Regions from separate parts of the Homo sapiens genome. Here region 2 is linked to region 1. Evidence: fine-mapped expression QTL. A gene starts in region 1. The other region holds a variant in brackets. All regions are shown on one strand. Distances are between the middles of the regions.

Evidence for each region. PIP is the estimated chance that this variant, and not a neighbour inherited with it, causes the effect.
Region 2: its variant is fine-mapped to the expression of NAV1 in whole blood (TOPMed, PIP above 0.99).

The regions. Positions count from the first base shown.
Region 1 is chr1:201,529,276-201,543,973 of GRCh38, reverse strand. NAV1 (neuron navigator 1) reads right to left here and starts at 4,847. Exons shown (of 34, transcript NM_001389617.1): 1 at 4,632-4,847. It overlaps LOC124904484 (a long non-coding RNA gene), which reads left to right and starts at 3,829. Exons shown (of 2, transcript XR_007066793.1): 1 at 3,829-3,955. It overlaps CSRP1-AS1 (CSRP1 antisense RNA 1), which reads right to left. Exons shown (of 2, transcript NR_160747.1): 2 at 9,190-10,550.
Region 2 is chr1:201,708,033-201,723,331 of GRCh38, reverse strand. It overlaps NAV1 (neuron navigator 1), which reads right to left. Exons shown (of 34, transcript NM_001389617.1): 6 at 10,413-10,515; 7 at 4,577-4,942. The region is part of intron 2 of IPO9-AS1 (IPO9 antisense RNA 1); the gene reads left to right. It overlaps MIR5191 (microRNA 5191), which reads right to left and starts at 3,824; the gene lies at 3,705-3,824. It overlaps LOC124904483 (a long non-coding RNA gene), which reads left to right. Exons shown (of 2, transcript XR_007066790.1): 2 at 1-1,277. RefSeq lists enhancers at 3,062-3,708, 9,577-9,871, 9,715-10,403. The variant C/T (reference allele first, on the strand shown) is at 9,032.

The DNA of each region.
Region 1 (14,698 bases):
GGAGTTGGTGGGAAACTGGAAGACAGGAAGATACAGCCCTTTAACCCTTTAATGCCTAACTTCTAGTTATTAAAAAATGTTCACAAATTCATAGAGATGGGAAGTAAAATGGCGGTTGCCGGGGCCTTGGGGAGGAGGGAAGGGGAATGGAGAGTTACTCTTTAATGAGTACAGAGTTTAAGTTTGGGAAGGTAAAAAAGTTCCAGAGATGGCTACAGGTGATGGTTATACAACAATGCAAATGCATTTAATGCCACTGAACTGTACATTTAGAAGTGGCTAAAATGGTAAATTGTAGGTTATACATATTTACCACAATATAATTGTTAGATGTTTAAAGTACACTAATTATAATGAAAAGTATAATTAAATACATCAACCCATCCTAATGTAAAATGTTAGCACTTAGTCAAATTTTGTTGTCTTTTTACAGGGGAAAAAAAAATGAAACTTTGCAGATAAAAAAAAAAAAATTCAGAGGGATTTATCCCAGGACTAAAAGAGTGATTCAACTTAAGAAAAACAATCAGTGTAAGGCACCACACTAACACAATGAAGGAAACAAAAAACAAGCCACAGGATTATCTCGAGTGATACAGAAAACAAGCATTTGACATAAAATTCAACACCCCTTTGTGATTAAAAAAAAATGATTAGAAAACTAGAAATAGAAGATGATTTCCTCAACACAAAGGACATTTATGAAAAGCCCACAGCTAACATCACGCTCACTGGTGAAAGGCTAAAATCAAGAAATCCCCCTAAGATCAAGAACAAGAGAAGGATGTCTGCTTTCACCACTGCCACTCAACATTATACTGAAAGTTCTAGCCAGAGCAATTAGGCAAGAAAAATAAATAAAAATCATTCAAATTGGAAAGAAAGACGTAAAACTATTTCTATTCACAGTTGACATGATCCTATGTATAGAAAATCCCAAAGAATCCAGAAACAAAAAAGCTACTAGAGCTAATAAATTCAGCAAAATTGCAAGGGACAAGATCAACACACAAAAATCAGCTGTGTTTCTACACACCAGTAATACACAAGCCAAAAAGGAAATTAAGAAACAATTCCATTTATGAAAGCTTTCAGAGCATCTGAGGATTGGATATCAGAACAGTCTTGCAGTCTTTTGAAGTGGAATCATCTTGTTAGTAACGGTCCTTGGCAGAGGCACATGCATCAGAGCCTTTAATTTTATATGCATATTAGTGCATCTCATATTAAAATTAAGTAGAGCAAATAGATTTGATGGGGTGGTAGTGTGAACTGCACAGGACATGTGTAAGAACCTGAACCACATCCACAGGCAGGTCAGAGTGGCCTGGGTCTCAGCCATCCTGCCTCGCTTCACGTCTCAAGAGTCACAGGATGCTGGGAAGCAAAATCGCAGGCCTCTCGGAGGAAATCAGGCCTGAGTCAGCCTTCCCAGGAGGTTAAGGGAACAGATGAGGCCCAGGAAACGGTTTACTGTGGAGGGTGTTTTTCGCTAGACTAGTTGGAGGGGTATTTTTAAGTTGAAGAAGGAACTAAAAGTGTTTTTAATTATTATTTTTTGTGTGTGACTAGGGGCCAGAAAGACGAAGTGTTTGCCAAGTATTGCCACATTTCTTAGCTCTCCATGTTCCAGAGACTCGAAAAGTTGATAGATGCTTCCATCACAGAGATAGCTGTCTTGACCCTAATATGTTTCTGTTCCTCTCTCTAGCTAAGAGGTAAGTAACATCTGCTGAGATGGAAACGCTAGGAAGATAAAAATTCCCAGTGATTTGCTGAAAGGGAATGAGCCCTAAACTGAAAGCCAGGAGCCCTGCATTCTAGGCGGGCTTCTGCAGTACCCCAGTTGTGTAGCTCTGAGCCCATCCCTTCCCTTCAGTGGGCCTTGATTCTTGCCTGTAAAGGGGAGAAGAGCAGGGGTTGGGAGGAGTGGAGATCCTTTTAACTTTGACATTCTGGTTTTTCTTAAAGGCCAAACCCTTCAAGAAGTCAAAAGAACTTTAAAAGAAGAGGGAAGTGACACTGATTGGAAATAGGAAGGCAAAAATAGAGACAAATTGTAAAAGATGGATAGGAGATTTTTCTATTCTAGGCCACTCCTTTCTACTGGGCCCAAACTGAGTTGATACCAGAGGTTCACAGGGACTCAGGAGGGGGCTAGATTAGGCAAGAAAGGAAAAACAGCACTCCTTTAAAAAAAAGATGGAGTTTCACTCTTGGCCCCCAGGCTGGAGTGCAATGGCATGATCTCGGCTTACTGCAACCTCTGCCTCCCGGGTTCAAGCAATTCTCCTGTCTCAGCCTCACGAGTAGCTGGGATTACAGGCACCTGCCACCACACCCGGCTAATTTTCATATTTCTAGTTGAGACAGGGTTTCACCACGTTGTCCAGGCTGGTCTCGAACTCCTGACCTCAGGTGATCCGCCCCTCTTACGGGCATGAGCCACCGCACCTGGCCAAAACAGCATTCTTGTTTTCAGTTTCCCCAGGCCAAGGTTTATCAAAGAAGCCAGATCCCAGAAAAAGCCCAAATATTCAAAGCTTGCCTACTTACCCATGGGCAAATCAACATTTTTATGAACTGCTTTTGAGGGAAAAAGAAGTAGAGGGGGTCTGGGGGAGCAAATTAACTCCCAAAGAATGAATAAATGGCACTTAAATGAGATAGGAGGCCTTTGAATGCTACTTAGTTTTTCTCCCCAATTCTATTAGTTTGGCAAGCATCTATAAAGTGCCTACTGTGTGCTGAGTGTTGTGGGTGGTCAGATAGGGTGTTTGGCTGGAAGGTACTCACAGGAAGATAGGCATGTGCACAAACACCCAAATATCTAAAATACAAAGCATGGCACACTGACAATCAACAAAAACAAAAAATGCAAAGCAGAATGTGAGACCTGCCCCAAGGGAAATCAGATAAACTGCTGAAGAAGTTCAGATCAGGGGCTGTTCTCTTTCACCCGGAAATGGTGTTCTCTTTCACCTGGTGTTCTCTTTCACCTGGAAAGTTCAGGAAATAGACCCTAGGGGCTGGAGCCCAAATCTGAAAAACCTTCTTTATTCTTCCAACCGTAGCGATTTTTTCCTGGCTCCACTTTACAGAAGTGAAAACCAGGACAGAGACATGAGGAATTATTTGCTCTCTGATCATCCAGGTGGTTAGCAACACAGCCAGATAGAGAACTACAAACTGATGATTGAAAACTTCCCCTAAAAACTGATGGTGAAAGCACATACTACTAGGAAGCTCATCTTAGAAGACAAAATCCATAGAGCTGTTCCCTCTGTCTCCCTTCTTAGGTCAATCCCAAAGACACACCAACAAAAAGTCAAAGCAGGATTTAAAAAAATGTCATAAGCAAGCTGGAATCATATATATCTCTGGCCTAAAGGAAGCCAAGGTCTCTGCAGTGTCAGATCGTCAGATCCTCCTCCTGGGGAGGCCATTCTTTTTGCGAAGTCTCCAGTCCCATTACAAGTGAGTTGCCGGGGACTTCATGTAGGGGGAACAAGAGCTAGCCCACAGATGAAAACCCAGGCAAGCCCTCTGCTTTTGCACAGTGAACGAACGTGCCCACAGGCTTCTCAGCATTGAATTTGAACGAGCCAATGGTATCCCAATCATTGAAACAGGAAGCCAGATAAACAGCATGTTATCAAGGGGGGATCCAGCTCTTCCCTTAAGCCGGCGCCAGCTGCGCCCTGTGACTATCCTAACAAAGTCCCATTGACTCACCAGCTGATTTTCCTGTGTTCGGCTCCAGGGGACAAGGAACCCTCTCTGCCGGGTGGACGTCACCCCTACACACCGCCCCCGCCACCCGCCACTCGCGTCCTCTCCAGTTCCTGCCTCCCCTCTGCCCGCTGCAAACTTAGCTGCTTCTTTATCCTATGACCAGTTTTTATCGGCTCTGGGGATTAGCAGGGACCAGAGCCCAAGCCTCGGGAGCGCTCAGGTGAGCTCCCCGTGATCACCCAATTTCTGCGTTCTCCTCTCTCCCCTCTCCTCCGGGACCACTTTCTCCGCTCCCAGACGCACTGGGCGGGCGCCAGAGAGGACGGCCTCCGGGAGATTGGCGGGAGGGCGCTTCCCGGCGCATCCCGGGGGTGCGGGGAACGTTTTCTGGAACGGCCCGCGAGGTCACCTGCCCCAGCTGTTCCTCTGGCTCCTGCTGGGATGGGAGGAGTTAACTCTTGCTTCAACGAAAGGCAGAGGTGCGGGTAGGGTGTGTGCTTGCCGTGTGGGTGCGAGTATAAGAACGCAGCACCTGGTGTCTCATGATAAGATCTCAACGCACTTTAAATTGTGGGTATTTCACAACAAGGAAACTGAGGCTCAGAGGGACTGAAGTTAGGCAGCCCCCCCGGAGAGTCAACTCTAGAATCAAACGCGCAGTCAGTCCCATAGGGGTCGAAAGGGCACACACCTTCCCGGGAAGCCGCGAGCATCTTGGTTGTTATTTATTCCAGCGCCTCTCCCGAGCCCAGCCCACAGCCTCCCTCGGGCACCAACCTCCCCTACCCCGAGACTTGGTCTCGGCCTCGCAGGACCTGCCAGCCAAGCCTCGCAAAACGGGAAGCGCCAGACCCTCAGCGCCGCGACCGCGCGACCGCCCCGCGCCGGCCACTCACCGGAGCGCCTGCCCGCCCGGGCTCCGGGTCCGCGCCGCAGCCGCGCAGAGTCGCGCATCCCCAAGGGCAGCGCGGGTGCGGGGTCCGCTTCTCGCGAGCACAAAGTTTCCCGGGGCTCCCCAGGCCGCCTCGGCCCCTCGCACCAGGCTTGGCGTCCGCCGCGCACTCCAGCCTCGGGCCCCGCACTAGGGCAGCCGCCGGCCCCGGCCCCACAATGAGGAGGGAGGCGGCATCCTGAACAAAGTGCCGTCCCCTCGGGAACGGCGGCCGGGGCGGAGCCTCGTGACCCGCTGCCCCAGGCACACGCCGGCTGCCTCCACGGCGGGCCCAGGAGGGGAGTGCCTGGCGGCCGGGGGGCGGGCAGGAGGAGAGAATCCGTCCGATCGCCCTGGCTTTCCTCCCCCTGCACTGTGCCAGTTTAACCCGCAGAGGGGCGGAGGCATGGGTCCCTTCCAGACTTTGTCATTGGAAAGCTATTCCCGTAACCCTTTGCTGCCTTCGCCTTCCCGTCCCGCCTCCCAGGCTGGCCGCAGAAAGGCGGCTGCTCGGTGGCGGACCCGCGAGCTGGCAGGGCAGGAAGCCTTTGCACAATTGAGCCTTTCCTTTGCCCGGGGACCCGCCACCGCCACTTCCAGGCCGGGTTTCCTCCCTCCCCCACATGTCGTCCGGGTACCGCTCGCTGGTTCAGCCGCAGTTCTTTAGGAGAAGGGGACAGATGGATGGGCCAGCCTCTCCACCCGACTTCTGACCCCGGGCACCCACCTCCTTTCTTTCTCCACCCCACTGAACTGTCATGCTGTCTGAGCTGTCTTAGAGGAGGGGGAGGCCCCGCAAGTGCCCCGCAAATAGTAGGTGCTCAGTAAAATAAGTGACTTCTCCCCACCTTCCAGACAGCCGATGCCCCTCCTCCTTCTTCCAGGGACTTGGGAGTGGGAGGAGGGGGAAGAAGAGGAGAGAGGAAATGACAGGACCTGAGGAGAGTGAATGGGAGGAAGGCCCTCAGCCAGAACCTACTGCAGAAGCAGTGCAAGCCCCCTGCCTCCTGGCTTGGGGACTTCCAGGGTCTGCAGGAAGAAGGCAGAAGGAAGCCAGATGACCTGAGCTTTGAAGCAGGCTTTGGAAAGGGAGTAGCTGTGGCCAAGGACCCAGCAGATTCCCCTGCTCCTGCCAACAAATAAGAGGACTGATCTATTCCCAGGGCCATGGGGTTGCAAGTTGGAGGACTGATGGATAGAAAGCAAAACTGCCTACTCCCTGGGAGGTCTCACAGCTCTTTGCCAGCAAAATCAGTGTGAGCAGAGTCAGGATGAGAGCCCTTGAGTCCTCCCTGAACGCCCCACACAGTCAGTAAGGCCACAGTGGCTTTGAATTTGGAGAGATGAGACACCAGACAATGGACAAGCAGTGACATTCAAGAAGTTCCCAACTGATCAGGGAAAAAGATTTGTTGTATGATTTTTGTCCATGAAGGGAGTGAACTGCCTTTTGGCGCGGGATAAGGGGGTGGACTGCAGAGTGACACCCTTACCCTCTGTATAAAGACTAGAAGTGTGGGCTCTTAAGGCAGACTGCATGAGTTCAAATCCTGGATCAATGATTTTTTAGCCATGGGAACTTACTGAACTCTTTAACCTCTAGCTACCTCAGTTTCTTTATCTGTAAAATGGGATAATAATGGTTCCTATCTCCTAAGAGTGTTGGGAGGATTAAATGCGATACTATAGGTGACACACTTAGAATAGTGCTTGGCACATAGTAAATGCTCAGTGAACATTAGCTGTTACTTTGATCTTGGAGTAACTAACTCTTGGAGATCTAACTCTTGGAGATCTAACTCTTGGAGATGTAACTCTGCGCCCAGTTTGGCATTCAATGATGTGCTAGCTAGAATCCTTTTGTGCTCTTCCCAGTCCTGCAAAGGGGAGCCTAGTCCTTTAAGAAGAAGCACTGTCCTTTCTTGAGAGCTCAAAAGGTGGGACCCCAGGGACCAAGGACCACACAGTAGGTATGCAAATGACTATCAGAAGGTGAAATGACTCCTTGACCCATTGTGAGGCTGGATGCATAGCCCCCATCCACATTGGTAATGCTGGGATGATGTCATTCCTTGGGTGCTACCCAGAATGGAAAAGAAAGCCAAAGCTATAATTTCGTAAGGGTTAGATCTCTTCTATCAGTACACAGGATCAATATTTCTCTCCCACTTATGAGTGGCTGCTCATACAAGTTCTCCCTCACCCTGCTCCTAATGTCCCAATCAATATGGGTGACGGGATCATTTGTACCCCAAGCCTCAGCATCACACAATATACCCAGGTAACAAGCCTGCATATGTACCCCCTGAATCTAAAATAAAAATTCAGAAAAATGTCCCACTCACAGATTTCCAACAGTGAACCTGTATGTGTAGGCAAACATAATAGCATATGGACAGGTTGAGGGAGGAAGGAGTAAAGGGGCCAGTCTGGTTGGGGTGACAGGCAGAGGATATGAAAGCTACTGAAAGAGAAAGTGGATAGGACAGAGCGGCAGGGAGGAGAAGCCAGAAGAGACTCTGGACAGAGCACTGTTTGGGTAAGAAACAGGGTCCCGCCCATCCCAGAAGTGGCCTCTGCCAAATGCCTACTTTGTGAGTAGTTTTTGTCTGAACACAGTGATGACTCAGTTGCTCTGAGTCTAGCAAATGGATTTTCCTTAAATATGAAAATCAATAAGAGGTAAAGGCAAGGACCTCGCTGTGGGGAGGGGAGGATGGAGAGAGTGGGAGAGGTGCTGGGGCGTGAAATGATTTGTGAGTGATGGAAGGAGGGAGATTCAGGTTCACTGCAGGAGACCCTTGGCATAGTCACCTGTACCCCCACTCCCCACCGAGAAGGTGGCCTCCAGGACCTGCTGGCCTCACTGAGGCTCCTTAAAACCCAACAGCCCCTCTGTTCCCCTCCTCCACAGCTTAGAGCCAATCCTGCTTTGGGACAAGATGGGTAGCGAAAGGATTAATGTCAACCTGACAAATAAGTTTTAAAAAATCAGCCCAGAAGCTTGCTGTCACTCCCATAGAGTATCAGATCCGGCCTCCGACGAGATGAGAGTTTTGGGAACCCCAGGAAGTATGGCAAGTGACATTTTCAGCCCCAGCCTGATTTCTTTGGGGGCTTTGCCTGTTTTCCTGCCGCCTTGAGGTCTGTGGACCAATGCTAATTTGTTTCTTGGGTTATCTGACATGGGACTTTGAGGATTTGAACACACTCACAGCTCCTGCGTTCCACGTGGCCCACAGGGAGACTGTCTTTATCCTTCGGACTGTCTTGTTTGGGGCTCCCAGAGCAGTTTGTAAGGTCCTTGGCAGGAATATGAAGATAGCACATTGCTTTATTTTCTTGAGCACTTAATAAGCGTCACTGGAGCTTCTAAGGAGGAGTCCGAGGCAGCTTCTGACTTCCTCCTCTGAAGCACAGTGGAAAAACACTGGGCCCAGCTTCAGAAGACCTGACTCCATGCCTTGGTTCTGATGCTGGCTGAAGTGCATCACCTCAGTTTGCTCATCAGTAAAAGGGAGTGTTGACACCCAGAGGACAAGAATACCCACCTACCAAGGGCATGGTGAGTATTCAGTGAGATCATGGAGGAGAAAATGGTTTCTGCAGTGCTGCTCACATATAAGCAGAAGTGGGATTATCAAACAGAAAGCATCAGCTCATATTCCCAACCCCGCCCCACCTCCCCACCCCAGTCAAATTCACTGTGGTTATGGGCTCAGTGCTTGAAAACCCATTTTTCAGTGATAGAAATCTGACTGGCCACTAAAAATCCTTGTCCTTTCTAGCTTGATTCATTAACCAGTGAGGGGTTTCCTAGGCTAGTGGAATGGGGTTGGACATGGGCAAAACAGGCATCTCCATCCTTGGCCACTCGGGCCTCATGACTGGCCCTGGGCCCCCTTTAAGAAGGGCCCTCTGTGTTGACTGTTGGAGCTTACAGGGACCTGGGAGAAAGAGTCCATGGGGAAAAGCTGTCAGAGTAATGAATGTTTTACGAGAGTGAGCGAGTCACTGCCTTATCGGGAAGATGCTGTTTCTCACTCTCTCTCTGTTACCAGGAAGTGAGATGTACTGAAAGCCATCGTGGTGTTTTTCCAAAGATGGCCTTTGAAGAGGAGGTGTTTCTTTAAGGGGCCCAGGAGAATAGGGGTTGGGTTTGCAGGGAGAAAACCTGCCCCTTTAAGAAGCCTGGTTCTGGCTGTGGCAATCCTGTGGTATGGAAGATAATAATAGTCCCTACTTATATAGCATTTGCTGTGTGCCAACTGCTATGCTAAGCATTTAACATATATTAACCCATTTAATCTCCACAACAACCCTATGAAATCTGTACCACTTTTTATCTCCACTTTACAGGTAAAGAAATTGAGGTCAAGTGTCTTGTCTGGGTCTCAGCTAGTAAGTGATAGAGGTAGGATTTGAACTGAAGGAGTCTGGCTCCTGAGTCCATGTTTTCAAATACTACATATATGCAGAGGAAAGGAGTCTTGATAGTCTCCATAGCAGTGTGGAGAGCTTGATCATGTACTAGTTCAGCACATTTCTTTATTTCTTTTCAACAGCTTTATTGAGGTACAATTTACATATTATAAAATTCACCCACTCGAAATATACAACTCTAAATCTACAGAGTTCTGCAGCCATGACCAGAACCAAGTTTTAGAACATTTCCACCACCCCAAAAAGCTACCTTGTTCCCCATGCATGTTTTAAACTGAGTCTCAATTTTCTCAACTGTAAAATGGGAATAACAGTGCCTGCCTCATACGGTTGTTATGAGCATTAAATCAACATGTAAATGGCATAAGGTAATGGTCAACAAATGTTATCTATTATTATTACAGTCTCTTAGAGTCACTTAAATACAGACTTTTAGAGCTGGAAGTGGGAATGGTCTTAAAGACAATCTAATCAAACTCTCTCCTTTAACAGATAAAGAGATAACAGTGCCAAGATGTTAAGCAACTTGCCAATTAAGGACACAGTAAATTTAGTGGCAGAGCTGGGAATGAAACCCGGGTTTCTTGGTTGGTACTTCAGTCCTCTCTTATCTCCTGAGAGACTTTCCACTCGAGGCACAGGAATATCATTGTCCAATACCCCCTTCACCCCCCATCTTTGCCATCTTTGTGGGTGCCTCCAGAGCAATGCTGACTGGCAGGCATGGACCCTGGGACTTTGCTTGTGCTGGAATACATAGAGCTCTGGCTTTGGAGCAGGGAATGTGGCTGAGGAATGTTGGGTGCAGAATCAGGGGACCAGATCCAATGTGGAGGCTGAGACAGGAATGTCCATTGTCAGAACACGGAATGCATTAACTAAAAGAATCCAGGACACAGCCAGTCCAACGGTCAGCTAGTCTCTGCAGAGCCAGCTTCATGGGCATATGACCTGTGCAGTCACACGGGGGCTCAAGCTTAGAAAGGCCCCCTGCTTGGTTTAATGCTTTGTTGTTGCCATCTTGAAATTCACAATGATTTTTAACAAGAAATGTCACATTTTTATTTTGCACTGGATCTTGTAAATTATGTAGCTGGTTTTGCCCATGTGATAGCAGAGCTGCAGCCAGACTCTTAAGGCCCTAGCAAGGAATAGTGTCTCTCCACCCAGAACTTACTCACATGTAAACTCTATGTATAATACACAGTCATAGAGTCTTAATACCGAGCATTAGAAGAATCAAAGCCTGGGCAACATATGGAGAACCTGTCTCTACAAAAAATTTTATTAAAATATTAGCCAGACATGGTGGCACATGCCTGTTGTCTCAACTACTCAGGAGGCTGAGATAGGAGGATGGCTTGAGCCTGGGAGGTGGAGGGCGCAGTGAGCCATGATTGTGCCATTGCACTCCAGCCTGGGCAACAAAGTGAGACCCTGTCTGAAAACAAACAGAGAATAAAAGTTGTGAAACAATTTGCACATTATGATCCAATTTATGATGAAAGATGCCCCATTAAAGTATATCTTTCTATATGTACATATGCTTGTATGAAAGTATATTTTTTTAAGGTCTGGAAAAACACTTCAAACTGGCAGTCATCAAGGGAGTCATTAACTTTTTCTGTGTGTTTGAGTTTGTTTTTTACAAGGAGAATCTATTCATGTATTACATACATAATTATTAAAAAAGTGTAAGATACTCCTAATACATTCTGTAAGCATTTTCCTATATCAATAAATAGTCAGTAAATAGTCTTAAAATGCCAAGAAAAGGTGTCTTGAGAGGGGAAAGCAGAAGTAGGTGTCAAGAGGGACCCTGGAGAGTGGTAGACAGGGGCAAAGACTATTTCAGGCCATGACAGGGCCTGAGGGGAACAGGCTTGGATGTGAGGAAGGGAATACCGGGTGGGGGAACCCAGAGGTAGCTGGTGAGAGGGTGGGTGCTAGGTGTCAGCTCCGTTCAGATTTAGAGGCTGCGATGTCCACTTTGGTGAGGGTAGGGGAGGATGATAGGAGCTGGAAAAGGATGAATTGCCAAATACGACTGGAGGTAAAGGCTGTAGAGGTGAATCCAGCTGTGGTGAGAAATGGATGAGGTGGAGGTAGGCAGGTGATTCCCTGCAAGGGAGAAAGAATGGGGCTCAGATGTTGGATTTAACAGAGAATGGGAGATTTGAGGCAGTGTGGCCCAGTGGTCAGAGTGCAAGCTTTGGAGTCAGGACGGCAATCAAATCCCAGATTCACTGCATCCTAACTGTGTAACCTTGAATTCTCCTCTGGGAAACAGAAATGATCTTGATAATAGCTATGCAGTAGGGTTGCTGGGAAGATTTGATAAGATGATGGAGGTAAAGCATTGCATCCAGTGGCTGGCACAGACCCCCAAATCTTCCCCTTTTCTCTTTAATTGATTTTGTGGTTTGAGGCTCTTAAATGGCAAGAAATCATTTGCATGAATAAAGAGCCATTCTTCCAAGCACTTCCCTCCTAGTTTTCTGGGAGAGCCACTGGAAGCCAGGATTCAGAGTTCCATCCTGCAAAAGCTGAGCTGAGCTAGCCAGGAAGGAGGAGGAGCTGACTGTGGCCCAAGGGCTGGGAAGCAAGGCAGAAGGGGAGAATCCAGCCCTAATTCCCACGCTGCTGGTGCCAGTGAGGCTGACTGTGGGAAAACCTTGTCAGGGGTCACACTTTGGGATCTCTAGGAGCAAGGTGCTCTGTGAATGCTTATCTCAGATTCTCTCCACCCCTGGCCCTTTCAGTGCCCCCAGCCCAACTCCGGGGAGAGTATGAGTGACTGACAGGCCCTGCTGCAGCTGCAGCCTCCTCACTGTGGGTACAGATGTGCTCAGCAGCAGCTGTGACACGGAGCCCACACCTGTTCCCTAGATCAGCTGCTGTAACTGTACTCCTGGGAAAGCAGGCCAGGTGCTCAGGCCTTGCCAAAGCCAGGTCAGAAAGCAGGTGGAAAGTCGGGCATCTGCCTGTCATAGCAGCGGTGGAGGCTGCCTGGAAGGTCATGAGGCCCTGGGAGTCTCAGCTACAGACTGGGCTCCTCTTCCAGCCCACGCTTGTCCCCAGCTGTACGCCTCCCACAGGCCCTCTGTGGTTTCCTGACCCCCTCCCTGGGCACCACCACATTGGGGTGGGAGAGACTGAGGAGCTAGGAAGGAGGCGGGGAGTCTTGAATGGGATGCCTCTGGCCATCTGTTATTCTGGGCCTGTAAGCTGTAAAGTCAGGGGACTTGTCCTGGGAGGTGGGGGTGCCCTGGAGCTGAGCAGCAACAAGGACCGGAGGAGTCAAAGAGAACTGAGGCAGGGAGAGGCCAAGGATGAGGGTGCGTCTGGAAATGAGAGCAGGAGAGCCTCTTGCGTGGCTTTGGCTGTGGAGACCTTCGTTCCGGAGACTCTGGGCTGCCACGGGAGAATTCCACTAAGCATGTGTCGGGGGCAGGCCCGGGCAGGCGGCCGTGGGAGCGCTGCACACACTCTGCTCCAGGCCTTGGCCAGCTAAAGTGCCGCTCTGGGAGAGCCTGGATACCGGGTGAATCCAGAAATCCCAGGTCCCTGGGAAAATTTCAACAAGGCAACTCTGACACGCGTCCTCTGACACCCAGACCGACACAATATATTGCTCACGCCAATACACATAAAAACCTCCCGATAGAAAACCAGATGGTGAGTTGGCATTGCTGATGTCTGGATTCTACACCCACACCCCACATAGTGCTTATAAAGAACACACCCTCCACTCATCCAGCCCACCCCACTTTCAGGGAGAGGAATCTTGAGCCTGCGATGCTCATAATGATGCTAACGCCTCAATGGAACGGTGCTCGCCAATTTCCCCAGTATCTCTGACAGTGCCGTGCCAGAAGAAACAGCACATGTGGCAAGCAGCTCCCGGCCAGATGTGGGACACTGCTGACCCCTGCTGGCGCTTTTCTCTCCACGCCAACCAGGGAGAGCCCCAGGGAGAATGCAGTATTGGAAAAACCTTGCAATCTGTCTGGGAGGGGTAGGAAGAAATACCCCAGCTCAGAATCTCCTCATCTGGAGTGCCTTTGACGAGACTAAGATGAAATTACAGTAAACCCAGACTGAGTTTCTGGGAGGAGTGAGACAGACTAATAGTATGTCCCCCTTCAGCCTTTGTGGCCTGGAAAACCCTGCTGCCAATCCCCTTGAAACTAAATTGGGAAACCATTAGCAACACTCCTTTAGCCAAGCTCAACCTTTAGGAGGAAAAAAAAAAGTAAGAAAGAAAGAAAAAGAAAAGAAAAGAAAAGAAAAAAAACACCATCCACAAGTAGCCCAAGATTTTCCAGTTACAATCAACCCCTTCCTTACCCACCCCCTGTCCTGCCCCAACGCCTTGCAGAGTCTTTGTGAAGTTTTAGCTTAATTTATTGTGGGTTTAATATTCCCCTTAGACTAAGATGTAATCATCATGGGTTTAATACTTTTCTTTCCATGAGAGACAGTAGCACTGTGCTCTTTGAAAAATCTTTACTAAGACCAGGTGTGGTGGCTCACGACTGTAATCCCAGCACTTTGGGAGGCCTAGGTGGGTGGATCATCTGAGGTCAGGAGTTCGAGACCAGCCTGGCCAACATGGCGAAATCCCGGCTCTACTAAAAGTACAAAAATTAGTCGGGTGTGGTGGTGGGTGCTTGTAATCCCAGTTACCTGGGAGGCTGAGGCAGGAGAATTGCTTGAACCCGGGAGACAGAGGTTGCAGTGAGCCGAGATCGTGCCACTTCACTCCAGCCTAGGTGACAAGAGTGAAACATAAAAAAAAAAAAAAATCACTTTGTACCCACAGAGACGAAGTTCAAGTCTTCCAGAATCTCTACTGGAATAGTCATAGCGACCAAAGGAGGACCAGGACTCTGATAATTCCAACAGAATTAGTATGGAAGCCCCACAGCACAGAGAAGTGTTTCCATTATTAAAACTCTTTTCTCTGTCTGGGCATGGTGGCTTGACCCTGTAATCCCAGCACTTTGGGAAGCCAAGACGGGCAGATTGCTTGCATCCAGTAGTTCGAGACCAGCCTTGGCAAGGTGACAAAACCCCATCTCTATAAGAAATACAAAATAATTAGTTCATGTCTGTGGTTCCAGCTATCCGGGAGGCTGAGGTGGGAGGATCACCTGAGCCCAGGAGGCGGAGGTTGCAGTGAGTCGAGACTGCACTACTGCACTGCACTCCAGCCTGGGCAACAGAGTGAGACCCTGTCTCAAACAACAACAACAACAACAACAACAACAACACAACCCTTTCTCTCCTTTGCACCCTACTCTAGACCCAGAGCTCTTTTTCACTTTGTTGTTAAACTCCATGAATTGTGTGTAGACCCCCTATCACTCTACAACCCATCACCATTAGGCCTCCACTCTGAACACTCCTACAAAGGCAATCATGGGCCTCTTAATAGCTAATCTAATGTACATATTCCAGTTCTCATTTTACTTGCCCTCTATAGCATCTGACATTTTAACGTCTATTCATTCATTATTTATTTTAAAATTTATTATGAACTATTTTAGGCCTGCAAAAGGTATACAGAATAATATAACAAACATA
Region 2 (15,299 bases), 180 kb before region 1:
GGTTCATATCTAGCATATATAAAGAACTCTTAACACTCAAAAAGAAATTAAACAACACAATTTAAAAATGGGCAAAGGACTTGAATAGATATCTCTCCAAAGAAGATGTACAAATAGCTAATAAGTACATAAAGCTGCTCCATATTACTAATCACTACAGAAATCAAAACCACAATGAGATAACCACTTCGCCTCCATCAGGATGGGTTTTTTCTTTTTTTGAGTTGGAGTCTCGCTCTGTCGCCCAGGCTGGAGTGCAGTGGTGCAATCTCGACTCTCTGCAACCTCCGCCTCCTGGGTTAAAGCAATTCTCCTGTGTCAGCCTCCCGAATAGCTGGTATTACAGGCACGCACCACCACGCCAGCTAGTTTTTGTAGTTTTGGTAGAGATGGGGTTTCACCCCACACCAGTTGGCCGGACTGGTCTCCAACTCCTGACCTCAAGTGATCTACCCAACCCAGCCTCCCAAAGTGCTGGGATTACAGGTGTGAGCCACCGCGCCTGGCCAGGATGGCTACTATAAATACAAACAAAACAGAAAATAGTAAATGTTGGGGAGAATTCGGAGAAATTAGAACCCTCATTCATTGCTGGTAGAAATATCAAATGGTGCAGCCATTGTGGAAAACGGTATGGTGGTTCCTCAAAACAAACAAACAAACAAACAAACAAAAAACACATAGAATTACCATATGATACAGCAATTCCATTTCCAGGTATATACCCAAAAAGAACCGAAAGCAGGGACTTGAATAATATTTGGACACTAATTTTCAGAGCAACATTCTTCACAATAGCCAAAAGGTGGTAACAACCCATGAACAGATGAATGGGTAAACAAAATGTGGCGTATACCTACAACAGAATAGAGTTCAACCTGAAAAAAGAATGAAATTCTAACGCTACAACATAAATGCTCCCTGATGACATTATGCTAAGTAAATAAGCCAGTCATTAAACAACAACAACAACAAAGACTGTATGATTCCACTTATATGGGTTACCTAGAGTAGTCAAATTCATAGAGACGAAAAGTAGAATGGTGGCTCCCAGGAGCTGAAGGGAGGAGGAAAGGGTAGCTACTGTTTAATGGGTACAGTTTCTCTTTGGGGAGAAGACAGAATTCTGGAGATGGACGTGATGATGGTTACACAGCAGTGTGAATGTACTGAATGCCACTAAACTGTACACTTTAAAATGGTTAACATAAAATGGTAAATTTTATGTTATATATATATAACCACAATTTTTAAAAATAAATCCTTTTTAAAAAACATGTATGATTATTCTGGTAGCAGCATCAGAGTCACTTTCTTCCTTCTAGTTTGCTGACTTCAGTTTGAAGAATTTGCCTTCTTTGGTTTGCTGACTAATGACCTGAAAGGGGCCTGGTCACTGGAGGGAGTAGGGAGAGCTGACTTGAGACTGAACAGGGGCTTGGGAAGAGCCGTCAAAGGGATGATCCCCCCGCAGATAAACAGAGTGTGGAGAAAGCGCCAGAATTACTGTCATCTTTTATGGCTCACTCGGATAGCTTGGAGCCGATTATGTCACCCAGTGGGGAAAGATCAGCTTTTCTGCTGGCCCAGTGCTGGGAGCTCTTGGGAGGTGGGAAAGTAAATTGCAGTGGGCCGAGGCTGATGGGTGGGCAGGGGTGTCGCAGTGTGGAGGGAAGCGCTGAAGCTATCCCTACAGGGAACAGTCCTACCCCTTTAATGACTAGAAAAACAGTTTTTTAAGAAATAGGACATTTTCTAAATTATAACATCTAGATGGAAACCACAGTGGGGATGAGAAGACCAACAGGAGGCTGAGCAACGACAGCTCAGGTTTGCATGTTCACTTAAAGAGTCGCTGGAATCCAGGTTGCCCTGTTACTAATTAAAACAACAACAACACTTAACCATGAAAACCCATAATCGAGGAGTGACTGTTTACATTAAATTACTGGGGATTATAAGTTGATTCCCTTCAACTCTGACTTCTCAGATGGCCATGTTTACAGTCCCAGCAGGGAAGTTAACAAACTCGTGTTAAGGGTTACTGCTAACTGAAGGTTGACCATAAAAAATGCATGTGAAATGATCTTGTAAACTAGCATCACAGTTTACAGGAAGGTCCACTTTATGGATATTGCCATGCCAACAATTGATTCTGTGTTCCCCATGCAAACTCCAGGCTTCCCAAGGCTTACAGCTGGGGGCTGTGCAGGGAAGGCAAGTTCTTATTCATGCTAGTCTCGGTGAACTCTAATTTTTAAAAAATGGATTCGGGAACACACATCCTGTCCAGAGGAAGGAGGATAAAGCAAGGGTGTTAGAGGGGGGATAAAGGGGGTCTTTCCTACCCTTTCCCCCTGCATTCCATGCCCCCACAGCCTATTATCTATGCCCCTGGGATTGACCAGCTGCTACTAGATCTGTCTTTGCTGCTGATGCTGAGTAAGTGGGACTCTGGTCAGACTACACACCCCTGACGGTAAGAATCATGTCTCTCCATCAGTCTGGGACTCTAATAACAACAAAAATAATATAGCAACAAAAATAATAGCTATCATTTAGTGAGCATTTACAATGAGCCAGGAATTATTCTAAGTACTTTACATATATTAACCCATTGAATCCTCATCAGAACCCTGAGATAAGTTCTACTGTTATCTGCATTTGACAGATAGACAAATGAAAGAAAGCCTGGGGAGGTGAACCAGTTTGCTCAAGCTCATACAGCTAGTTAAGAGCCGGAAGTCCTGCCACCTTCCTCAGACTGCGACGTCTCCAAGCAGGGCTCCTGTACCTTGCAACACTTGGGGTATTTTCTGCCATGGCCATCAGGTGGGTTGGTGGGGTGAAGGGCTCTCAGAGGGATCTCGTTTCCATCAGTTTGGGAGCTGTGCTGGGCAGGGGCCCCGTCACCTCCATCAATCTGGGAGCTGTGCTGGGCAGGGGTCCTATCACTTCCCCTGTCTGGAAGCTCCCTAGGGTCTAGGGCTATGGTTCTTCTAACACATGGGGGACTTTCTAAAGACTCAGCCCCGCAGGGCTTGTGCCACCCTCTGCACCCTCCTGGGATTCTCAGAGGAGGGCAGTGACCTGACACTTCCTCAGGCAGTCCCTGGCAGCTTCCTAGGGCAGAGGCTGTGTGGAGCAGCTCCTCACACACCTTGGCTCTCCTTCCTGCCCAGCACAGGCCTCTGACCACAGAAGGAGCTCAGGATCTGTGCACTGCATGGCTTTTCTCTGGTCCCAGCTCCAGGCTGGTGGATCTGAGCGTGAGCGCGAGGTTGGGCTGGCCCCTGGGATTTAACAGGCAGTAAACAACTCCATTCATGCGTCAGTTGTTTTGCTCCAGAGCAGCCTCATCAGCTGGACAAGCCCTAACCAGATCCCTCCAAGTTCTCTGCAGGGGTGGAGATGGGGGTGGGGAACAGTGGATGGCCTGGAGCTTGGCTCTCGTCTTTTCCGAGGAGAGGCTACTTTCCACTCCCTTGAAGTCTGGGATTTTTATTGGGGAGAGGCAGGCCCTGGCAGTAAGATATTAAGTCCCTGAGAAGGAAGGGAAGGGATGCTGCTGCTACTTGTATGGCCCCTTGGCGGAGGAGGGCACCAGCAAACCAAGAAGGGAGAGTGAAAGTGGCAGTAGGCTAAGAGGTGCTCCAGAGAAGCTTCCAGAACCACTGCCTCTCTCCTGTCTCTGGGCTTGGAAGAGTTGGCCAGGATCCCCCTAAGCGCCCAGCACTTCATTCTTCCTATCCTCTCTTCTATCCTCCCAGACCAGGAGAGGACAGCAAGAATGAAGTGCTGGGGGCTTGGGGTCCTGGCCAACTCTTCCAAGGTTGGAAGGCATAGGCACAACTCTGTCAATTAAGGCAGAAAAATATAAGAAGATGAGGGTCCCTGCAGGGCAAAAGGCAGGAAAGAAGGATTTGACACGCTGGGTAGGGATTAGGAAGTTGCATGATTGGTAGAAGGTTTGCACAGGAAGAAACCCAAGGAGCAGACACTGAGGACCACAGGGGTCGGATAGGGAACTGAGGGGTTACGAACCCCTGGCAAAGGAAGTGGAGCTACTGCTGCTACTCACTGTTTGACTAGCGATTTCACCCACAAGCTCTCATTTTCTCTTCTTAGGTAGACAGATACGATGTTAATAACCTTTTTGGTTTTTTTTTTTTTTGCAAATGGGAAAGCAGATTTAGTTGTCCAGGGTCTACACAGAGTTCGCATAAGAGCTGGGAATAAAATGCTTTTCCAAGGCTCTTTGAGCCAGTTTATTGAGGGCAAAGAGCCAGGGAGGAGGGTGACAGAATGACAGCCACAGAGACCAATGAGAGGGAGGCGCCTTCATTGACCAATCAGCTCCTTGGATGTAGGCCCTGCCTACACCACACCCAAGTCTAGAATAAACCACATCGAATTTCAGAGGCAATCACAAAGTGTACACAGCACACTTTTGTGTACTTTCATAGCAGCACAGCAAACCAAAACCCGTTTTGGGTTCCACTCCACTTTTAAGGCGTCGCATCCCAGTGGTCTTTCCACCATCCTCCCCCGCCATCCAAGAAGCCCCTGCGCTTACCCGGTAGTGATGTCATCATCCTCCGTCATGGTCTTGCCCATGAGGTCACTGTCGCTCATGTAGCCGGACTTGAGGTCCACCTCATCCGAGTCCAGGGATTCGACCAGCTCCAGGCGGGAGATATGGCTGAGCTTGCTGGGGCTGCGCATGGGCATGGTGTGGGAGTAGTGGGCCCGTTCGCCGTGCATGTACCAGGCGGGCGTCCCCTCCGAGCGGCAGCTCCCACCCACAGAGGGCGCGTCACCAGCCTGCAGCCGCGGACTGGACTGGCCATAGCGCCATGACAGAGGGGACGAGCGGTTGGAGAGGCTGGACACGCTGCGTGGGTTGGCATCATCGCTGTCGTAGCAGGTCATCTCCAGGGAGCTGGGTGGAGAGCAGAAGGCACTACTTAGTCCTTGGCACAGCCGCCGTGTGCCCTGTCCCCTCACATGCACCCCAGCAATGCCTCCCCTCCACCCACAGGCCCTGTCACCTCCTCCCCACCTGCCCAAGCTCCACCTCCTCCATGAGGCCTCTGGTTGTGTGTTACCTTTGTGATACGTTATCTGTTTGACAAAGGAAATGATCTTAATTAAGTGGCTAGGGAAGAAATCCTGTATACTGTTAAGACCCTAGATTGTGTAATATGACCTAGGTTTGAATTCTTTTTTGGTATTGGTTAGTAAAGGAGCCCAAGGAAAGTAAATAACTAAAGCTTCAGTTTCCCCATCTGTACAATGGGGATAATGGCATAACATCTACCTTATAGAGTTGTAAGGATCACATATGTACAGACAGAACACAGTGCCTGGTATATGGAAGGGGTCAACAGACCTGGAGGCAAGTGGGAGAGACTGGTCACTTGAGCTTAGAAGGCCTTGGTCATTTTGTTAATGGTGTGTCCATCACCTCTCTTCTAGTAATTAGCTGAGGGCTAGCTGATTCCCAAACATCATATATAGGAAAGCTGAAGTAGAGTGCAGAGAGTATAGGAAAAGCTTTGGGAATCTGGGATGTATGGCAGGTCCCCAGTAAGACTGGTCCAAGCCACAGGCCTAGGGCAGCAGGGGAAATAAGCCTCCCCAGAGAATAGAAGCAGCCTTAACTGGACAAAGGAGAGGACACAGGGAACCAGACATGGGGGTGAAGCCAAATGTCCAGAGTCTCAAGCCTCAGGCCCTGCTAGACCAGGCCAAGGGAGCAATGCCCAGGTGAGTGCTGGATGGCCTGAGACTAGGGGAACCTGGGGGACTAGGGAAGGAGATAGGGCCAGGCGGGCTGCAGAGAGGAAATACAACTGGAATCTGGTTGAAGGGGTGGCTTGGACTTGGGTTCAGGCTGAGACCCATAATTCCATCTAGCCTAGCAGTGGGGCCAGCCCAAATCAGCCTCAGGCAGGGTCTCCATAACTTATCCTAATTAAGCCAGACAGGACTAAGTAAGCGAAACGGGGTTTGGTGGCCAAGAAAGCTGGGGCAACTGAGGCAATCTGTGGCTGGACATGAGTTACATGAGCCCAAGCAATCACTGCTCTGTGAACACATCCATTGCTTAGCCACTTTGGGGGCTGGAATGGGAGTGGGACATTGATTTTTCCATTCTGGTTTCTATCAAGTTCCTTGAAAAGAAGAAAAATTTCCAAAGTTGTCTCTATTGGACCTGAGAAAATACGGTCTTATTTTCTAACCAGCAGAACTTGAGGGATCCAAACGCTCTTGAAACTGAGTGTGCTGGGGTCCTGGCAGTAGTCCTGTGGGCAAGATGGGGGAGGCCCTGGCCAGTCAGGGCAATCAGTGGCAGCTGCTTCTGGCCCTCTGGAGGGCTTCCTGACCGTGTCCATGCCCAGCGGCTCCCCTCCTGGCCCTGCCAACTCTTTTTACTTATTTACTTATTTTTGAGACAGGGTCTCACTCTGTTGCCTAGGCTGGAGTGTAGTGGTGCAAACACGGCTCACTGCAGCCTTGACCTCCCGAGCTCAAGTGACCCTCCTGCCTCAGCCCCAAAGTAGCAGGGACGACAGGCACACATGAGCACATCTGGCTAATTTTTGTATTTTTTATAGAGATGGGGTTTTGCCATGTTGTCCAGGCTGGTCTTGAACTCCTGAACTCAAGCAATCCTCCCACCTCGGCCTCCCACAGTGCTGGGGTTACTGGCGTGAGCCACTGCACCCTGCTTCTGGCAGCCCTTTAGGAACCCCTTTGTGTTCTGCAGCTCTGCCTCATACAGTGTCTTGTTTCGGCTTCTAATTACTGTGGACCTAGACATCACATCTCCTTGGACAGAAACCGATGTGCCCCGAAGCCAGAGACTGTAGTGATGGTGCGACTTTGTCTGCCTTGCTCACTCACCACGGTATTTCAGCACTTTGCATGGCACCTGGCCTAGAGCTGGTGCTCTAGAATGAATCAAAGAGGAGCAAACCCACGATGGATGTGTGAGTAAAAAGCAAGGAAGTTCTCATCAGAAAACTCAGTCCAGCGCCCTGTGCAGTAAGTGCTTGATAAAAGCAAGCTGACCTTGACCATGGGATGAGACAGGGGAGGAAGAGGATGATGCTAACCATACTAAGAGGGTGGCGGGGATCTCCAGGGAAGCTGGTTTGGGTAGTTAGCCTACACCATGGTTATATACTAGTGTGGGAGTGAGGGCTGCACTCAGCATCTGGGTTCCTCAATTCTATTCCTGGCCTGCCCCTGTTTAGTTATTTGTACTAAAATTGCCTCTTCCCCTATTCCACAGCTCTCTCTTTTTTTTTCAGTTCCCCCAAACACATCTCTAGACATCTCTAGACTTAAGCTTGGTGAGGGGGATTCTAGCTCAGATCCTCAGTTCTTGAATTCCAGCCCTGCACCCACCCTTCAGGCTTGCCTTTCTCTGGGGAGGACACAGTTTCATTTCCTCTCCAGCCACAGTCTGACCCAGACTCTCCTCGCTGGGGGAAATGAACCAGTAGAAATTGAGGAAGCAGCACAGGAGTAAAGGCTTCTGAAAAGGAATGGAATCCAGTTATCCTGGGAGTTCCTGGGTGAAAACAGCCTTGCAGGAAGCACACACTGGACCATAAGCTCCGAGGATGAAGCTTGTGTGTGTTCTGGGGAGCCAGTGCCCAGCGCTGTGCCTGGCACACAGCTGGCATGGGTTCTGAGCATGCAGAGTACAGAACCTACCCTCATCAGCCAGCGTGACTCTGGCAGGTGCCTCCCTGCCCCCAGCCTCATTCTCTAACCCAGGGAGTATGTATATATCCTGTCTACTTCCAGGGCTAAGGGAAGGGCTCATTGATAGAAAGCCCTTTAAAAAGTAAAAGAGCCGGCAGGGCGTGGTGGCTCACACCTGTAATCCCAGCACTTTGGGTGGCCGAAGTGGGTGGATTACCTGAGGTCAGGAGTTCTAGACCAGCCTGGCCAACATGGTGAAACCCCATCTCTACTAAAAATACAAAAATTAGCCGGTGTGGTGGCACGCACCTGTAGTCCCAGCTACTTCAGAGGCTGAGGCAGAAGAATCGCTTGACCTGGGAGACAGAGGTTGCAGTGAGCTGAGATCATGCCAAGGCACTCCAGCCTGGGAGACAGTGAGACTCTGTCTCAAAAAAAAAAAAAAAAGAGCCATAAAAAGTCAGGGAATCATTGTTTTGGCTACCAGTGTGGAACAGGAATAATATAAACCAAAGCCTATGAGAGGAAGTGGCTCTAGGTCCACAGTAAACAGAAAAACCAGCTCCGGGGCTCTTGGTTCCTTTCCTATAAAGGGAGGCAGAAGCCAGAGGCCCTAGACGCTCCCCCTAAACCAGTCAGCATTATGCAAAAGGCTTGATTGAAGCCTCCCCTTTCCCACTAGAAGCAGAAAACCAATAGCGCCTGCCTAGGGTCAAGCTGTCCGGCTTAACGGAGGGACTGGGGGCTGGCTGCTCTGAGTCAGTGGCACCAGGAGGCTGGAGCTGCTACTTCTCTCCTACTCCTGTGAGTGAGTCATTTGGGGTGTGGCCCTCTCAGCAACTAAGCACTTTCTGGTGTCTTTGGCATGAGGCTGGTGGGTGACTTGGTGCTGAGAGATGTTCCAACAATTTCCTTGGATGGGGGAAGGCAGATGTCCAAGATTTCATCCGCTGGGTCCTAAACTGATAAGCCAAGCTCTGCCAGATCCCTGCTTCACTTGGGCTCCTGCTGGGGGCTTGGGGCTATGAGGGATGGCAGTAAGGGACAGATGTAAGGGGGTCCTGGAGCCCCCACCATCCACCTTTTTCCAGGACTTCCTTGGTCACCTCCCTTTCAGTAGTCAGGGTTCTGCTGGCCTGAGCAGAGGTAATCCCCAGAGAGTTTTGATTTATCTTACCATTTAAAATACTCGAGATGTCTGGGAGTAAAGGGCTGAGTGTCCAAGATGCGGGCATGGGCTGGGGATAGGGGGAGGAGTAGTACAAGGAAGGAGAAGGAGAAGGGTCATCTAAGCAGGAAGAACTACAGCCAA[C/T]GGCTGAAAGCTACTTAAGACTAAGTGCAGTTCCACATCAGAGTTGCTGCAATCCCACAATGCACCGGGGTGACTGAAAGGTAGTGAGTTGGCCGGGCGCGGTGGCTCACGCCTGTAATCCCAGCACTTTGGGAGGCCAAGGCGTGTGGATCACTTGAGGCCAGGAGTTTGAGACTGGCCTGGCCAACATGGTGAAACCCCATCTCTACTAAAAATACAAAAATTAGCTGGGCGTGATGGCACACAGCTGTAATCCCAGCTACTCGGGAGGCTGAGGCAGTGGGCGACAGAATGAGACTCGGTCTTTAAAAATAATAACAAAATATTTTTAAAAAGCCTATGTTAAAAATAAAAAAAGAAAGGTAATGAGTTCTTTGTCATTGGTGGTATGTAAATATGTCCATGGGTGTGGTCCCATCCTCAGAATCCCAAATGGCCACACCCTGGGCTAAAGAAAGTCCTTTTCCACTGCCCCTGTGTCCCAACTTTGCTCTTAATTTTCCAGCCCCAGGAGTTGGAGAGGAATCTACTTCCAGTCTAACTGGGGAGGCTTCCTAGCCCTCACACAGCCTTCCTGCCCCACACCCCCCATGATTTCCCAATCTGGCTGTCTGTTCTGCCTCCCGCTGTCCCCAGAGCTTAGCCCAGCCCTCTGCCCCACTTGGAGCTGACAGCATGAGCTCATCTGGGCAGTCCAAGGAGCCAGCAAGGGAAATTCTGAGTCACAGCAGAGCCTGTGGCCAGGACTTTGCTCCAGAGAGAGGTGCCGTGGGAAGGCTGAGTGCCCCATGCAGCTGGAGGCTATGAGGTCTCTGCAGGGAGTGGGCTAGGGGGACACACCTAACAGGGCATGGAGCTGGGTGACACTGTGTGGGCCCTGTTGAGCACTCAAGCCTCCCTCAGTGGCTCGTAGAAGAGGCCAGGGGGCACCTAACTGACACAAGAGTGAAAAGACCCAGGTGTTGAGAAGGGAATTGATTCTAGACCCCTAGTTTAATGGAGACTTAGGAACAGGAAGAGAGCATTTAGTAAACCTTCTCTTGACAGATTGAGGAGACAGAGGTCTAATGAAGGAGACTGACTATCAAAGATCACACATTGAGCTGTGTAATGGCTTCCACTTCCTGGCTCCTAAGCTAGTGATTTTCAAGCTGATTTGCTGAAATGAAATGAAATGTTCAGGCACAAGCAGACAGAAGACAAAGCCAAGCTTCTCTTGTTGAGATAAATGGATTTCCTCCTCCTTCTGCAGTGGCTCCACGCATCAGGCCACCTGGCTGACCTGGCAGAGGTGTGGAGGGACCCGGGGGCCCTGCCCTCCAGAATGGGGTGGAGAGCCAGGAAGGCAGAGGGCATGACCCTCTCTGCAGCTCGAGCTTACCTGTGAGTCACCTGGGACCCTCGCAGGCTGGACATGGTCTCTTCCAGGTTCTGCCGGAGATCCAGGACATTCTGCACTGTCCTCTTTCTCTGGGACTCTGGGTCTGGTAGGGAGAGAAGGAAGAGCTGGGTGAGTGAAGAGAACTTAATGCTGGGATCCTGGGGGTCAGGAAGTGGAGATTGACAGTGTCCCCAGGAGGCTAGTCCCTGGGCCATGATAGTCACCTTCCTCCTCCCTTTCCCAAAGACAACCAACAGAATGGGCCCTCTCAAAGGCCCTGGACATGTGCCATTGAGCCCTCTGAACCCCAGATCCTGGCAGGGGGTACAGGCATGGCTTTCTGTGTCTGTGCACTCCTTTCAGAGCCCCCAAGGAACTGCCTCTACCTCTGGCTTTGTTTTGGGGAGGCCCTGCTTCTCATAGCAGAGGTCCTGGGCAAGATTTCTCGTGGTTGAGATGAGCTGGAACATCTGCCTGAAACCCCCTATCCAGGGTTGTGCTGGTAAATGTTTAACAACTGGCTTTCGGAGGAAGGGGACACCGATGTGTGGTGTTTGCCAATTTCCCTGGTATAAAGCCTCCTATCATGGCCACTTTCAATCTACCAATCTGATGTCACTGACCACAGAGTTAGGAAGAGGGGCTAACAATTGGCTCTGGGGAACTGGTACAAGCTGGCTTCAGTACACCTAAACCCAGGCACTGACTGGTAATATCTGGGGTTGCTCTATGGGGTCCCAGGAAGTTAGTTCAGATATAGTCTCCTAAAGGTGAGGTGGCTGGTGGGAGGTGGAAGGGATGAGCAGTCATTTTCTGGAGCTTGAAGTGAGCTCTGGGCAGTCCCCACACAAGTGGTGCAATCCTGAGTGAGAAGGATGCATGGGTGTGGCCCAATCCTCAGAATCCCAAATCACCAAGAGCCATTGTATTCAACCCTGGTGTCCAGATATTAGCCTGGACGGATGAGAATCTACAACAGCAAACAGGGTGAAAATAACGTCCAAATGACTGAGAGGTGCTTGAGCATGAAGGAACTCAAAGAATGTTCTTCCTTCCTTCAGTTCATCCAATGAATCTTTATCAAGCACTTACTTCACATCAGGCACCACCCTGGGCCCTAAGGACAGTATAATGAAGAGAAGCTGGCCCTGCCCCATGGCTTATCTTTCATTTTGGAACCTAAAGTCATGAATGGAACCAAGTCCCCCAGTACCTCCCTAAAAGACAATCTGCAGGAGAGAGTCAGGGAGTGACAGAAAGATGATGGCAAAACAACAGAGAAAACCCAAGAACTCTGGCTCTCCAGGCTGCTCCCTTTTCCCCTCCATCCGCAAGCCTTCTGCCGCTGCTGCAGAGGCCAAACGCCCCCTCAGTCCCTCCTCAGCCCACAGACTCAGCAGGAGTGTAAGGTTTTTTTTAGCTGCCAAAGGGAACATTTCTGAATCTCTTCAAGAGGTTTTTATTCCCCCAAGACTAAGCTCAGGCCGGCTGGCAGGCAGCTGCTTGACTGTCTTGTCAGGGAGGGGAGGCTGGGTGGGGCGGGCAGGGAGCCTGCAATGCCCTCTCCAGAGCCTTTTGGGCACCTTTTCTGAGAACCAGCTCCACACCCAAGCCCAGCCATCCCTCCTTTCCCCTCCCAGGGGGAGCTTCTCCACCCCCACATCCTCTCATGGTCAGCACCATGAATCCAGGCCTCCATGCTGGTGGCAAGGATCAGGGACAAATGGCAGGCCACCATGCCAGTGGCCTAAGCTCTATCCCCAGTCCTGGCATCACTTCCGTGGCCGCCAATGCCTATTTATCCTGGCAAGTGTCACCTTGTAAGCTGCTCCATGGCTTTAATTGATGGCTTGGCATGAAACACAGACAGGGTCAATTTTTTAGACTCGCCAAGAAATAAAGTTGAATTCTAAAATGCCTATGTGGGGACTAAGAACATGGTGCCAAGGTGTGGGTTTCTGGCCCAGGGTGATGCTTTTTATGGGCTTGGCAGACATGAGGGACAGGCACACACATCTCCAAGGGGTGTGTATTCCCAAAGAGGAAGGTGATCAAGAGTTACTCAGAGACTTCTGTGTGTGCCAGACCCTTTGCATGCATTATCTACTTGAATCCTTGCAACATTTCTGGGAGATTTGTGCTACTGCCCCATTTAACAGATGAGAAAACTGACACTCAGAGAGAACAAGTAAACTGCCCAAGGTCACACACCTAGCATGTAGCACAAGGCAGAGTTGAGCCCAGGAAGAAACTCATACTTGTCTTGATATATCACAGGGCATCTCTGCACCACTAGCATCAAGCATGGTGACTGTTGTATAGGAGGCGCTTAGGCTGCAAGCAGTGGCTCATGCCTATAATCCCAGCACTGTGGGAGACCGAGGCCAGAGGATCGCTTCAGGCCAGGAGTTTGAGACCAGCCTGGGCAACACAGGGAGATCCTGTCTATATAAAAAATAAAAATAAAAAAATTGGCCAGGTGGCTCAAGCCTGTAATACTAGCTACTTGGGAGGCTGAGGCAGGAAGATCACTTGAGCCCAAGAGTTCAATGCTGTAATGAACTATGATCACACCACTATACTCTAGCCTGGGCAACAGAGTGAGACCCTGTTTCAAAAAAAAAAACAAAGAAGATGCTTAGTGAACATTTCAAGAATGGATGCTACCACAATTTTTTAAAATTTCCAAAAACCCATGAAAAAAAGTAAAGGGATACATACATGTCACGTTAGGAAAATGTCTTTTTTTTTTTTTTTTAAGGAAAAATGTTTAAACCACACAGTAGCCTCAGGAGAGTCATGCTGCATTCCCTAATGCCCCAGATGCTCCAGATGGGAGTCATAGACATCTAGGTCACAGGTTTGACCCTCTTTCTCCATATCTCTTCCCTCAAAGACCTCTATCCTAGCCCCTTCCTCAATTCCACATCAGCAGAGTGTGGTGGGACTATTTCAGAGTCTCCCAGAGTCGCCAAACCACAAGAGTCCTTGAAAGTCACTTAATCCTGCTGTGTCTCTGGAGAGCTGGGAGGCTGAGGTCCAGGAAGTAGGGACTAGCTGGAGATCACAGAGATGCGAATGGAAGAACACTTGACTCCAGGCAGCTTCCCCACAGGTATAGATTTGGGGCATACAGGGGAGGAGGTTAGGGCAGGGTTTGGTTTCCTTGGGGGTGACCAGGATCTGGTCTCTGCTACCAGGCTGGAGGGGCCCTGCAGAGGCTACACCCTGCAGCTCCCTCTGTGCCCCAGCAGTGGCCCCTGGTGGCCATCATGGGTATGCCGCTCTGCTTCTCCAAGGCTCAGCCCAGGGTGGGTCTGGAGGGTTGGGGCCCCTGGTAAGTCTGGCTTCCTCCACATTGCTAGGTGACAGACACATTCCCGGGGTGGTACAGCCACAGCTTCAGGCCAAGAGGACTTACCTGTGTACAAAAGAAAGGCCTCCAGAGCTCCAGAGGCTGCAGAGGGGGCCTAGGTTGAGGAGCCAATCTGACATTCACACCCATGACCCTGAAGGTGAATTTTTATATTTTAGCTTAAAAATATGAGTAAGTTACATTTCCAAGGGAATTTACTTCACCTCTCAACCCTCATCCATTCCTGATCTTCACCTTACCCCACCTCTGACCACCAACCCATAACTAAGCTTCACCCCTTTCTCACCATCTCCTGTGAGGGTGAGCATCCCGGATGGGGTGAAGGTATCTAGGGCTTCCGCTACTCTGTGATAATGAGAAAAGTAACCTAAAAGTTCAATGGTTTTTTTTTTTTTTTTGGAGACAGGGTCTTACTCTGTCTCCTGGGATGGAGTGGCATGATCACGCCTCACTGCAGGCTCAACTTCCCTGGTTTTGAGCGATTCTCCCACCTTAGCCTCCTGAGTAGCTGGGACTACAGGCATGCCCCATCACGCCTGGCTAATTTTTGCATTTTTAGTAGAGACGGGGTTTTGCCATGTTGCCCAAGCTGGTCTCGAACTTCTGAGCTCAAGCTATCCTTCTGACTCAGCCCCCCAAAGTGCTGGGATTACAGGTGTGTGCCATCGTGCCTGGCTAATGGCTTGTTTTATTGGCTAAGTTGAGATGCCCTGGAGGCTGCCTCCATGTGTCTCTGTCAAATGTTTTGCTCTGGGTGTGGGACAGGCCTGGGGACAAAACAGAGCCCAGACATGGCAAAGATGCAGAGGGAGTCTTGGTAGCCCATCCCCTTCCTCAATACCCCTAAGTGGAGGACGTGCTCAGAATACTCCCATCTTACGTGGCACCTTTGTGCAAATTAGAACAAGGTACTCTCCAGTCCAACCCACCTCTAGCCAGGTCCTAGTAGAGTACAGCGTTCTCCTTCACATGATACCAGCCAGGATGCCACCCTCCAAAACTTACTCTGGGGGCCTGGGAGTGCGTGCTGTCTTAGCTCCTACAGAACAGGGTCCAGCTGCAAGAGTGAAGTGTGTGTATGTGTGTGTGTGTGTGTGTGTGTGCGCGCAAGTAGGGTTTGAGGGGGGAAGGGGGCAGGTAGGGCTCCTAGCAGGCCCCAGGGCGACACCAAGGTCTATGGGGAGGAGCTCATGATGTTATCCTGGGCTGCCCTCCAAGCCTTTCCCTGAAAATGGAGCAACTGGGGAGAGAATGTGTGTGCTACTCAGGCTCAGAACAGATGCAAGTCTCTCCCAACCCAGCCATCACCACGGCAATTCACAGTTACCACAAACAGCAGCATAGTCCCAGCATGCACTGGGGCATCTGCAGAGTAGGATGGTGTTTCTTTCTACACACTGTTGGCTCTTATGCAAGACCACAGAGAGAGCATACTGTCCATGTCAAGGGTCTTTGGGAAAGGACTAGCAATCAAATACACTTGACAGACAGGTGCATGCACACACAAATCA